Homo sapiens: one gene and its partners. The protein of the gene in region 2 purifies or fractionates together with the protein of the main gene of each other region. This does not show direct contact. Each region holds a gene or a part of one and is shown on either strand. Other genes may lie near its edges.

Region 1 (3,646 bases), on a different chromosome or scaffold from region 2:
TAAAAATACAAAAAATTAGCCGGGTGTGGTGGCGGGCGCCTGTAGTCCCAGCTACTGGGTTGGCTGAGGCAGAAGAATGGCGTGAACCCGGGAGGCAGAGCTTGCAGTGAGCCGAGACCCTGCCACTGCACTCTAGCCTGGGCGACAGAGCGAGACTCCGTCTCAAAAAAAAAAAAAAAAAAAAAAAAAAAAGAGACAGGGTCTTGCTCTGTCATGCAGGCTGGAAGGCAGTGACATGATTATAGCTCACTATAACTTGGAATTCCTGGGTTAAAGGGATCCTCCTGCTTCAACCTCACGAGTAGCTTAGGATGACAGGGGTATGCCACCACATCTGGCTAATTTTAAAAAATTTTTTCTTTGTAGAGACAGGGTGCCCAGCCTGGTCCCAAACTCCTGGCCGCAAGTGATCCTCCCACCTTGGCCCTGCAAAACACTGGGATTACAGGCATGAGACTCCATGCCTGGCTGGGGTTATTACTTTAAGTCCTTTTATGTCTTCTAAGTTTAGTTCTTTGCCTCAAGACTTACCCCTTGCAGTTTGTACTCTACCCTAGTTCATGTTATCTATAACATCTCTTCCTTCAAAAAATCTCGTAGCTTCTCATCACATACATTTAATAAAATCATGGTTTGGCCACTGTCTACACTTTAGTCTTCTCTTCTATTCTCCCCACAGGGACACTGTGAGCCAGCCCTGTGAAACTATTACAGCATTCCCCAAATGTACCATCCTTTGGCCTTTTGCTTTTACCCACTGTTGCTGGTCTTTCAAATTCAGCCTAGAGGCCAGGCACAGTGGTTCACGCTTGTAATCATAGCACTTTGGGAGGCCGAGGAGAGTGGATCATTTGAGGTCAGCAGTTCAAGACCAGCCTGGCTAATATGGTGAAACCCCGTCTCTACTAAAAATACAAAACTTAGCCAGGTGGTAGCGGCATGCACCTGTAATCCCAGGTACTCGGGGGTGCTGAGGCAGAAGAATCGCTTGAGCCTGGGAAGCAGAGTTTGTGGTGAGCTGAGATCAAGCCACTGCACTCAAGTCTGGGCAACAGAGTGAGACTGTCTCAAAAAAAAAAAAAAAAAAACAGCCGAGTGAAGTGGCTTCCTTCTTCAAAAAATCTCGTAGTTTCGCACCTGAACCTGGGAGGCGGAGGTTGCAGTGAGCCCTGTGAAACTATTCAGCATTCCCCAAATATATCAGCACTTTTTTTTTTAATGGAGTCTCACTGTGTCGCCCAGGCTGGGGTGCAGTGTTCAAGCGATTCTCCTGCCTCAACATCCCCTAGTAGCTGGGATTACAGGCATGTGCCACCACGCCCGGCTAATTTTTTTGTATTTTTAGTAGAGATGGGGTTTCACCACATTGGCTAGGCTGGTCTCGAACTCCTGACCTTGTGGTCCTCCCGCCTTGGCCTTCCAGACTGCTGGAATCACAGGTGTGAGCCATCACGCCTCGCCACTTTGCCTTTTTTCTTGGACTGTATTGCAGAATGTGGATTTGGAGCAAGTGGTCCTGAAGCACTTATTTTGTCACCCACAGATTAAGATTTTCCTCCACAGGCTACACTTGAAGGTCTCAACACTTTGAAGTCTCCTCTTATGGGGCATCCAGTCTAACCCTCTGGCTTGCTACTTAGCAATGGGTGTTCTGTGATGGGGTGATTTGGAAGGAAGGAGTCTGCCCCTTTCTGAGCCACAACAGTGAAGCCATTTGATCTGAGCCTAGGTGGGAGAGATATTTTAATAGATAAACATTCTAGCTTTGATTTTTCTGAAGAGTAATATGCCTGTTTTTTTTTTTTTTTCCGCAATTCAGGGGATTTTCTTTGGTGCACTTGTTGACTCTGCATGAATTTGCAATCCAAGGGAAAAGTTGGAGAAAGAACAAAGTTGGCTTTAAAAGTCAAGGTAAGGCTGGGAGTGGTGGCTCACGCCTGTAATCCCAGCACTTTGGGAGGCAGAGGCAGGTGGATCACCTGAGGACAGAAGTTCAAGACAGCCTGGCCAAAATGGTGAAACCTCGTCACTACTAAAAATAACACTTTGGGAGGCTGAGGCAGGAGAATCGCTTGAACTCAGGAGGGAAAAATTAGCCAGGCATGGTGGCGGGCACCTGTAATTCCAGCTACTCGGAAGGCTGAGGCAGGAGAATTGCCTGAACCCAAGAAGCGGAGGTTGCAGTGAGCCAAGATCGCGCCACTGCACTCTAGCCTGGGTGACAGAGTGAGACTCCATCTCAAAATAAAAAATAAAATAAAATAAAATAAAATGTTTAAAGAAATTTAATTTAGCTTATAATTATTGGCAAATGTTAGAAAAAAATTACCTTCAAAATTATTAGTTTTGCTTAATAAATTTAAGCATAAAGTGAAATAACTGAGTGTTCTTTTATCCACACAAATGTCCTTTGAATGTTAAAGAACCAAACCAAGGGATCATATAATTGAAAGGTTATATCTAAGATCCATGTAGGAGGTAGAATGGATAGGTCAAAGTGGGTGACCATAGAGAAGAGCATCTAAAGTGACTTTCAGGTTTCTGGCTAGGACAACTGGATGGGACGTCAGTGCCATTTGCCAAGATGGAGAAAGTTTTAGGTATAAGATGAAGAGTTCAGTTTTATACACATTGAGTTCCAGGTACCTATAATATTAAGTGGAAATGTTTAGAAGGTAGATGAAAATATGAGTCAAGCTCAAAAGAGAGGTCTGGATAGGAATTAGAGGTCTCCGAGGTGGTAGCTGAAGTTATGAATGAGATCAGGAAAGCAAAATGTACGGTGACAAGAGTTGGGAACCACCAATAGAGCCCTGGGCAGACCTTAAAAACTTGGACGGCCAGGCGCGGGGGCTCACGCCTACAGGCCTCCCAGCAATTCTGGAGGCCAAGGCAGGCGGATCACTTGACGTCAGGAGTTCAAGACCAGCCTGGCCAACATGGTGAAACCCTGTCTCTACTAAAAATACAAAAATTAGCTGGGTGTGGTGGCACGCGCCTGTAGTCCCAGCTACTCGGGAGGCTGAGGCAGGAGAATTGCTTGAACCCAGGAAGCAGAGGTTGCAGTGAGCCTAGACTGAGCCATTGCAGCACTCCAGCCTGGGCGACAGAGCAAGACTCCGTCTCAAGGAAAACAAACAAACAAACAAACAAACAAACTTGGACTGAGTGCACTAGACAAGGATGGAATCAAATCCTCATAGGACCAAGTTTTGTTATACAATACAGGTAAATAACTAGTAAATCCTAGCTATTTCAACAGCAGGAAATCCTTATTATACAATCATCTTCACTTAAACAATTTTATTTAATAATCCCTTTTCTACCACCCTTTCATTGATCAAAGGTAGAGGGGAATCTCTGGTTATTTTCAATCTATTTTCTCCTTTTAGTGGTAAATCATGGAATATTCTTAGCCATCAGTGACCCTGGAATTAGCCTGCCATCCTACTGAAATAAAAAATATACCTACATGGCACTGATTCCTGGTCAAGGCATGAAATATACAGATGAATAGTGTTGCTTTTTAACTATGGGTCTAAAGAATTTTTTTATACTTGCTCTTAGATTCCCCACCAGAGGGCTCTGCTGTTGAAGCTGTTTACTCAGCAGGAATATGCCTATGTGATCAACAAAATATTTTTTA
Region 2 (4,235 bases):
CGGAACTGATATTCCGGAGTAGGCACCATTCTGTTTCTAGCCTGGGTTCTGAGTTCTAGACATCTTAAACTTTTGACTCTATGCTAAGATCAGGATTCTAGATCGAACCTGGATTATGACTTGATTTATTTATTTATTTTTTTTTTGTGATGGAGTCTCGCTCTGTCACCTAGGCTGGAGTGCAGTGGCACGATCTCAGCTCACTCTCGACCTCCAACTCCCAGTTCAAGTGATTCTCCCGCCTCAGCCTCCCAAAGTGCTGGGATTACAGGCGTGAGCCACCGCACCCAGCCTCTACAGGTCTGTTTCATATTGGATTATAGGGCTCTTGGTTCTGGACTCTGGCCCTAGCCCTTGACCTCAGGTTGGGCTCTGGGTTCTAGTTGGAGCTCTAGGTTATGGCCCGGATCCAAGATTCTAGAGTCTGGTTTGCATTCTGGCCTTTATATTCTAGACTCTGGCCTGAGCTTTGATCTCTAGGTTCTAGACTGACCTGTTTATGGCATAGATATGGCTTATAGGCATTTTGACCTCTTGGCTGGGGTCTGGGTTGTAAGTTCAGATCTAGAATTTAGGAGGGGTCTAGGTTTTATATGGGGCTTCTGATTAGGATCTGCATTCTGGGATTTATTGATTGATTGATTGATATGGAGTTTCGCTCTTGTTGCCTAGCCTGGAGTGCAATGGTGCGATCTTGACTCACTGCAACCTCCGCCTCCCAGGTTCAAGTGATTCTCCTGCCTCAGCCTCCCGAGTGGCTGGGATTACAGGCATGTGCCACCATGCCTGGCTAATTTTGCATTTTTAGTAGAGACAGGGTTTCTCTATGTTGCTCAGGCTGGTCTCGAACTCCTGACCTCAGGTGATCTGCCTGCCTCAGCATCCCAAAGTGCTAGGATTATAGGCATGAGCCACCGCACCCGCCACATTCTGGGATTCAAACACTGGGTTGAAGTCTGCTCATAGCGGAGCTATAGACTAGACTCTGAACTAAACCTTGGGTGTGAAACAGCCTCCAGGTTTTGCCTCTATTCTTAGAGTTGTATGTTCCAGCTGTGAGCAGCGTTCTAGTTCTGGATTTATGGCTAGACTGCAGGTCCTGAACTGGGCTCTGAGTTCTACGTAGTGTCCTGAGTTTCTGAATGTAGACGGGGTCCTGAATTCAGCCACCAATCTGGAATGGGCTAAGCTTGGTCTCGATGTAATGTGTGGCCTCTGGAAGAATCACTGGATCAGATGTTCGGTTCTCAGCAGGTCCATGGGTTCCAAGCTGCCCATCTGCTTTCAGAACCTATGCTGAGTTCGAGATTTATGGAGGAGCCCACATCCCGAGCTGTGTTTTTGTTCCAGGCTCTTCTCTAGACCTCAAACCAGGAGCCAGCCACTACATTGGGTTCTATACAGAGATCCAGGTTCTCAGCTCAGCTCTAGGGCTTTAGACTCTGGAATTCACTAGGTACAGGGACAGGGGAGGGGGTCACTTACGGGCGGCCGCAGTGAGCAGCAGTGATGACCCACTGGCCTGAAAGCAGGGCGCCTCCGCAGAGGAAGCGGCGCCTGGGACCCGCCAGCAGGGCCGCCTGCCACGGCTGGGAGCTCCGGGTGCACGTATGGCCACCAATTATCTTGTTCTCATCCTCTTGGCTCTGTGTCATGGCTAGGAGTGGACAGGATTGGGTGGGGAAAGTAGATGAGCAAACACTCTCCACTCCACAAGTTTGTAGGATTCCAAAACTGACAAATCCCCTTCCTTTTGGTCTAACCCCTAAACTGCCCGCCTCTATCTGTCCCACCCAGGGTGAGACATGCCCAATATTGACCCCGTTATTGCCCCAGCACGGAGAGCTTTCTGACTCACCTCCCAAGTCACCTCCGTAGCATCTCTTATTTTGTGCCGTGGCCACCTTATCCAGGGCCTTGCTACATCTACGACCCTTAGCTCTATGCTCCCATAATTTCTGTGATCACTTCTCGAAATATGCCACATTTCCCCCCAATGAGTCCTTCCCCAACACATTCAAGGACCTCCCTGTCTCCTCCCCAACGTTCCCACTCAGTGGGACCCCAAGGATCCGCCATCTCTTGCCCCACACTTGCCCCCATCCACCTCACACACCCATGCCACGATCCCGCCACCCCATGCCACGATCCCGCCATCCCATCATCCTTCTCCACCTTCCCTCTGACAACAAAACATCTTTCTGACATTGTTTCTTTCCTAACACAGTCAGGTAGAGCCCCGTGATCTTTCTGCTATGACCCACTCAGGACCTAATAGTTCCCTAAGATTCCTTATGTATTTTGCACCAGACCTTATAAACACCTCTCTCCCCGGCCCCACAATTCCCTAGCACCTCCACAACTAGGAATTTAGGCCTCCAGCACGTTCCCCCACCATGACCCCCAAACCACTCCCTGCTCTTTCTTATGAGGTCACCATGAGCATCCAGGGGCCCCAAGGACCCATCCCCATCTCTTCTCAGAGTCTCCAGGGGACCCCCTTGTGTCATACCCAACCGTTCTCTTACCTATAGCCAGGACTTGAAGTGCTGTCAGCAGGAGGAACATTTTAGGGGCTGAGGGCCAGGTCCTGTCAAATGCAGAGAAAAAGTGAGAGAGAAGGAACCTTCAACAGAACCGGGGGCTGAGAGGCAGAGACAGCAAGGGGCACTTACCCAGAGCCCAAGACCCTCAGGGACATGAAGACACAGCAGAGAGGTAGGGACCAGAGACGAGGGGGGCGGGGCCTGCAGGCTCTGCGGGCGGCAGGTGGGAGGATGTGGAGCAGGGCACAGGTCCCTCCTTGATGTCTTGATGAAGGAAGGAGGGGAGGTGTCTCTCTTCCTAGTCACACTGGCAAAGCCTTTTATCCCTGGTAAGGACAGCTGGCCCTGCCCCCACCTCCCGCCGCCCTGCTTCTGACATTTTTTTTTTTTTATTGCCTAGTTCCCATTCCAGGACTCCCTGATCCCATCCCCTCCCTCCCCTGTCTGGCCAAAAAAGCAGCCACAATTGTTCATGAGAACCCGCCCAGGGAAGATGCTATAATCTAGAAGGAATCCTGGGAGGGGACCCCAGGGCAGGGTGGGCAGGGGAGGGTTCCCAGTTGCTGGAGGTGGTGGATCTAGTGGTGGAGTCAGGAAACCAGGGTGGGGAGTGTCAGAGGAAAGGGCACGAAGGGGCTGAGAGAGGGAGGAAGAGATGGACTGAGAGAGGGAGTCACGGGAGGAGGGAGAGAGGGAGAGAGAGAGAGAGAGAGAGAGAGACAGAGAGAGATGGAGAGAGAGAAAGACAGAGAGACACACAGACAGAGAGAGACAGAGACAGGGTGACGGGGGGGAGAGAGAGAGAGAGATGGAGAGAGAGACAGAGAGAGAGCCAGACAGAGAGACACAGAGAGAGAGAGAGAAAGAGAGAGACAGAGACAGAGTGACAGAGAGGGGGAGAGCAAGAGACAGAGAGAGACTGGGAAAATGAATGAGAAGATATGACAGTGGAGAGAGAGGAGTCCAGGAATACGAGCACAGAGGCAGGTGTGCTCATGAGAGAAGGAACTGAGGAGAGAGCTGGAGAAACCGGTGGAAGTTGGATGTGACAGGGAACAGAAGAGGCAGACGGTGGGAAAAAAACAAGACAGAGGAAGAGGGAGACACAGAGACGCAGGGAGAGAGGGGTGTGGAGAAGTGGAGATAGAAAAGCAAAAGACGGAGGGAAGAAGGTGGAGATAGAATGGAAACAGACACACAGAAAGAGAAAACAGTGGAGAGAGAGGAGAGAGGCCGAGACGCCCCCACCATGCGGCACTCACCACAAACACACACAGAACAACAGCGATGATGATGAAGGCAGTGCGGGCATGAGACGTGGAAGAGAACGGGACATGGTGGGAGAAAGAGGATGGGACAGGCAGGCCGATGGCAGAGGGGAGACGGGAAGGATGGGCACCTACAGGGGATGGGGACAATGACAGAGGAGACGGAGGCCTAGATGAGAGATGGCAGCGCCAGGGAGAGATGGAGAGGAGGGGTGGGATAGAGGACGGGCAGGAGGTGGGCGGGAGATACCTGGACCTGGAGCAGAGCTGCCCACCTTGCTTTCTCACTTTCGACTCCTGAGAGATGGGGGAGCAGAGGCCCCAGCAGGGAGCAGGAAGGTTGGTGCCAGAACTGGCATTCCCCAGCTTGGGATCTGCTAGGTGCAGAGACAAAGTGAGAGCTGGAGATGCAAAGAGAGAG
Region 3 (3,646 bases), on a different chromosome or scaffold from region 2:
GGGCTGCAAGGGGGGTGCAGAGCTCTGCCCTCTTCCTTCATTACTTAGCTTCAGGGTCTGGGAGAGTGGTGAAGGCAAAACACAAACTGGGGCAGGAGGAGCTGGAGGTGGCTTTGTTCTGAGATTCCAAGGTGGACAAACCCACCCACAACACCCAGTACTGCAAACAGTTCCAGGCGAGGTTTAAGCGGAAGGGCCAAGGTTCAAATCACAGGAGACTCTCAGGCCTGAGGGCTTGTCTCACCAACTCGATGATCTTACTCCTGTGGTCCTGCATCACCTAGCATCACGTCTTGCACGCAGCATGGGGTTCCACAGATATCTGGCACTAACTGCCGTGAGCTGGGAGACAGAAGTGCTGCAAGGCTGTACCCCTGCCTTACTCCTAGGGACACTCGGCCCCTACCTCTGCATCGATGCCCCTAGCCCGTCTCTAAGTGTGTAGGAGCACATTCATGACTCATCTAATGAGGGAAGCTGTGTAAACCCCCAGTGGCCAAAGACCACTTACTGGTGGGGAAACTGAGGCACATGGAGAGGAACCATGCATCACACTCAAGGCCCCAAACTCTACTTCTCAGTCCCTGACATGTCATCCCAGGCACTCCTCCTGTCTGTCCTGTGTGGCTGGAACTCTGAACCCGGTAAGTGCACAACACCCATTTTTCTTTGCACTCATCAGCTCCTCAGAATTCTAACACTATTAAAATGGGAATGATCCTCTGCCAAAACAGACAGGTATTCATTCACTCACTTACTCACTCAGTGCCATGGATGGAGGCCTTACTATGTGCCAAGAGCCATTCTAGGGGCTAGAGATACATTGATGAGCAAAACAAAGAGACCTGCCCTTTGAAACTTATATGCCAGTGGGAGGAGACAGACAGTAGACAACACAGTAAATCAGCAAATTACATAGATGCTAGAGAGCAATGTGTGCTACGAGAAGAGAAGAAATCGGCACAGGGCAGGGGAGATTAGGAAGTTGGGGTGGGATGGTGGGTGCAGTTTTAAACAAGGTGGCAAGAAGGCCCCACTGAGAGGTGACCTGGGAAGACAGTGAGCCATGCTGACTTCTGGAGAAGAATATTCCAGCCCAAGGAAACAACCAGGGCAAAGGCCCCATGGTGGGAGCATCCTGGTGTGTTTAAGAACAGCAAAAAGGGCCAGGCACGGTGGCTCACACCTGTAATCCCAGCACTTTGGGAGGCCGAGGTGGGCAGATCGCTTGAGGTCAGGAGTTCAAGACTAGCCTAGCTAACATGGTGAAACCCCATCTCTACTAAAAATACAAAAATCAGCCAGATGTGGTAGCATGCACCTGTAATCCCTGTTACTTGGGAGGCTGAGGCACAAGAATAGCTTGAACCTGGGAGGTGGAGGTTGCAGTGAGCCGAGATCATGCCAGAGTGAAACTCTGTCTCAAAAAAAAAAAAAAGAAAAGAAAAAAAAAAAGGCCAGGTGTGGTGGCTCACACCTGTAATCCCAGCACTTTGGGAGGCTGAGGTGGGTGGATCACCTGAGGTCAGGAGTTCGCAACCAGCCTGGCCAACATGGTGAAACCCCATCTCTACTAAAAATACAAAAAATAGCCGGGCGTGGTGGCGGGCGCCTGTAATCCCAGCTACTCGGGAGGCTGAGACAGGAGAATCGGAGGTGGAGGTTGCAGTGAGCCGAGATGGTGCCATTGCACTCCAGCCGGGGCAATGAGAGCGAAACTCCGTCTCAAAAAAAAAAAAAAGAAAGAAAGAAAGAAAGAAAAAAAGAACAGCAAAAAGGCCAGTGGGGCTTGCCAGAGAGTCATCCATTGTTCATTCATTTGTCCAACACTTACTGGAGACCCGTCTCTTTACCAAGCACTGAGTGGTGAAAACACTAAGAAGGCATGGCCTCTACCCTCAAGGAGCTTATAATGCTGGAAAGGGGAAAGAAAGAATACAAAGGCCCTAAAAGAGGATTACTTGTGGGGCAGAAGGACTCTGGCAAAGCTAGGCTCAGGACCCTCACCCAACCTGGGGTGGAGGAGGGTCCAGGACAGACCCTCAGAGAGAGATGCTGGGCTAGACAGTTGCCCCAGCTCTGACTCTGGTGCTGTTAACAATGCCAGCTGAAAGGCTGGGCAGGGTGGCTCACACCGGTAATCCCAGCACTTTGGGAGGCCAAGGCGGGTGGATCACCTGAGGTCGGGAGTTCAAGACCAGCCTGACCAACATGGCGAAACCCCGTCTCTACTAAATAAACAAAATTAGCCAGGGGTGGTGGCACATGCCCGTAACCCCAGCTACTCAGGAGGCTGAGGCAGAAGAATCGCTTTAACCCGGGAGGTAGAGGTTGCAGCGAGCCGAGATTGTGCCATTACACTCCAGCCTGGACAACAAGAGCAAAACTCCGTCTCAAAAAAAAAAAACAACAACAAACAAACAAATAAAACAATGCCAGCTGTTCTAACTTTGCTCACTTGTTTCTCTTAGCAAAAAAAAAAAAAAAAAAAAAAAAAAAAAAAAAAAAAAAAAACCATTCCCAACACCAGACTCCTAAACTCTTTTTTTTTTGAAACAGAGTCTTGCTCAGTCGCCCAAGCTGGAGTGCAGTGGTGCGATCTGGGCTCACTGCAACCTCTGCCTCCCGGGTTCAAGCGATTCTCCTGCCTCAGCCTCCTGACTAGCTGGGGCTACAGGCATGTGCCACCACGGCTGGATAATTTTTTGTATTTTTAGTAGAGACGGGGTTTCACCATGTTAGCCAGGATGGTCTCAATCTCCTGACCTCGTGATCTGTCCGCCTCGCCCTCCCAAAGTGCTGGGATTACAGGCATGAGCCACCGCGCCTGGCCAAGAAACTCTTAAATTGCAGATGTACACTAGGTGTGTGCTGTGTCCTGGGTAATCTCAGACTAAGAAGGTGGACGCCAGATTGGAAGGTCTGGAAGAGGCCACGCTGCAGGGAACCCGGTGTGCAATGAGTTAAAACTGGTTTTCCAAGACCTCTGAGAATGGGGAAGTAAGTGATGGCATAAAGCCGCAGGGCCTGTTCATTTGTCGGGGGTGGGTAGAGAGGGGGGACTATCACCATCTCCAGGGCGGCCTGCTGTGCTGGGCAGCCTGTGTGCAGTTCCCTGGGTTTACCAGCACTGCTCCAGGGCTTGGCCTCAGGCTACTGGCCTCTGTTAAGCAGAGTTTCCCGGAGTAAACTGAACCTGGGGACTCTGGCTCAGCAGAGCTCTGCTACGGCCTAAGAGATGCTAGCTCTGTTTTCCCAACTTAATGAAAGGGCACTTGACAAGACAGAGCCCAAAGACAGCCCTCTCAAGACCCAGGAGGCTCCAACCCAAGAGAGCTCAGCCCTGCTGATCAAGACTGGGAGACTGGTCAGACCAATCCATACTGGTTGGATCCAGATTCCAAATGAACTGATGGGAAGGTGCTACTGGGTGTGTCACAAACCATAGTCCCAAACACCACAGAGGCAGTGAGGAGGAAGTTGCCCTGGAGGGTCCTAATCAGGTTCCCAACTAAGCAATAGGAGAAGTCTTCAGGTCCCAAGGCTTAGGGTGGGGGTGGGGCACAGATCCTCACTGCTTTTCTGTCCCAGGCTCGGGTACCTGGGAAAACCTGATTCCTGGGTCTGCACTCCCAAAGCCGCCCCC

Evidence for each region.
Region 1: the proteins of KLK14 (region 2) and ZC3HC1 purify together in Homo sapiens (co-immunoprecipitation; one large-scale study listed by IntAct). This does not show direct contact.
Region 3: the proteins of KLK14 (region 2) and CNNM4 purify together in Homo sapiens (affinity purification with mass spectrometry; one large-scale study listed by BioGRID and IntAct). This does not show direct contact.

What each region holds. Positions count from the first base shown.
Region 1 is NC_000007.14:130,034,321-130,037,966, forward strand, and holds part of ZC3HC1 (zinc finger C3HC-type protein 1), read right to left. Parts: intron 1-3,646. UniProt on the Homo sapiens protein: Required for proper positioning of a substantial amount of TPR at the nuclear basket (NB) through interaction with TPR.
Region 2 is NC_000019.10:51,080,047-51,084,281, forward strand, and holds the start of KLK14 (kallikrein-14 preproprotein), read right to left. Parts: upstream 2,842-4,235; 5' UTR 2,702-2,841; coding exon of another isoform or gene 2,676-2,701; intron 2,591-2,675; coding exon of another isoform or gene 2,569-2,590; coding exon 2,529-2,568; intron 1,658-2,528; coding exon 1,486-1,657; intron 1-1,485. UniProt on the Homo sapiens protein: Serine-type endopeptidase with a dual trypsin-like and chymotrypsin-like substrate specificity. May activate/inactivate the proteinase-activated receptors F2R, F2RL1 and F2RL3 and other kallikreins including KLK1, KLK3, KLK5 and KLK11.
Region 3 is NC_000002.12:96,763,893-96,767,538, reverse strand, and holds part of CNNM4 (metal transporter CNNM4 precursor), read right to left. Parts: intron 1-3,646. UniProt on the Homo sapiens protein: Probable metal transporter. The interaction with the metal ion chaperone COX11 suggests that it may play a role in sensory neuron functions. May play a role in biomineralization and retinal function.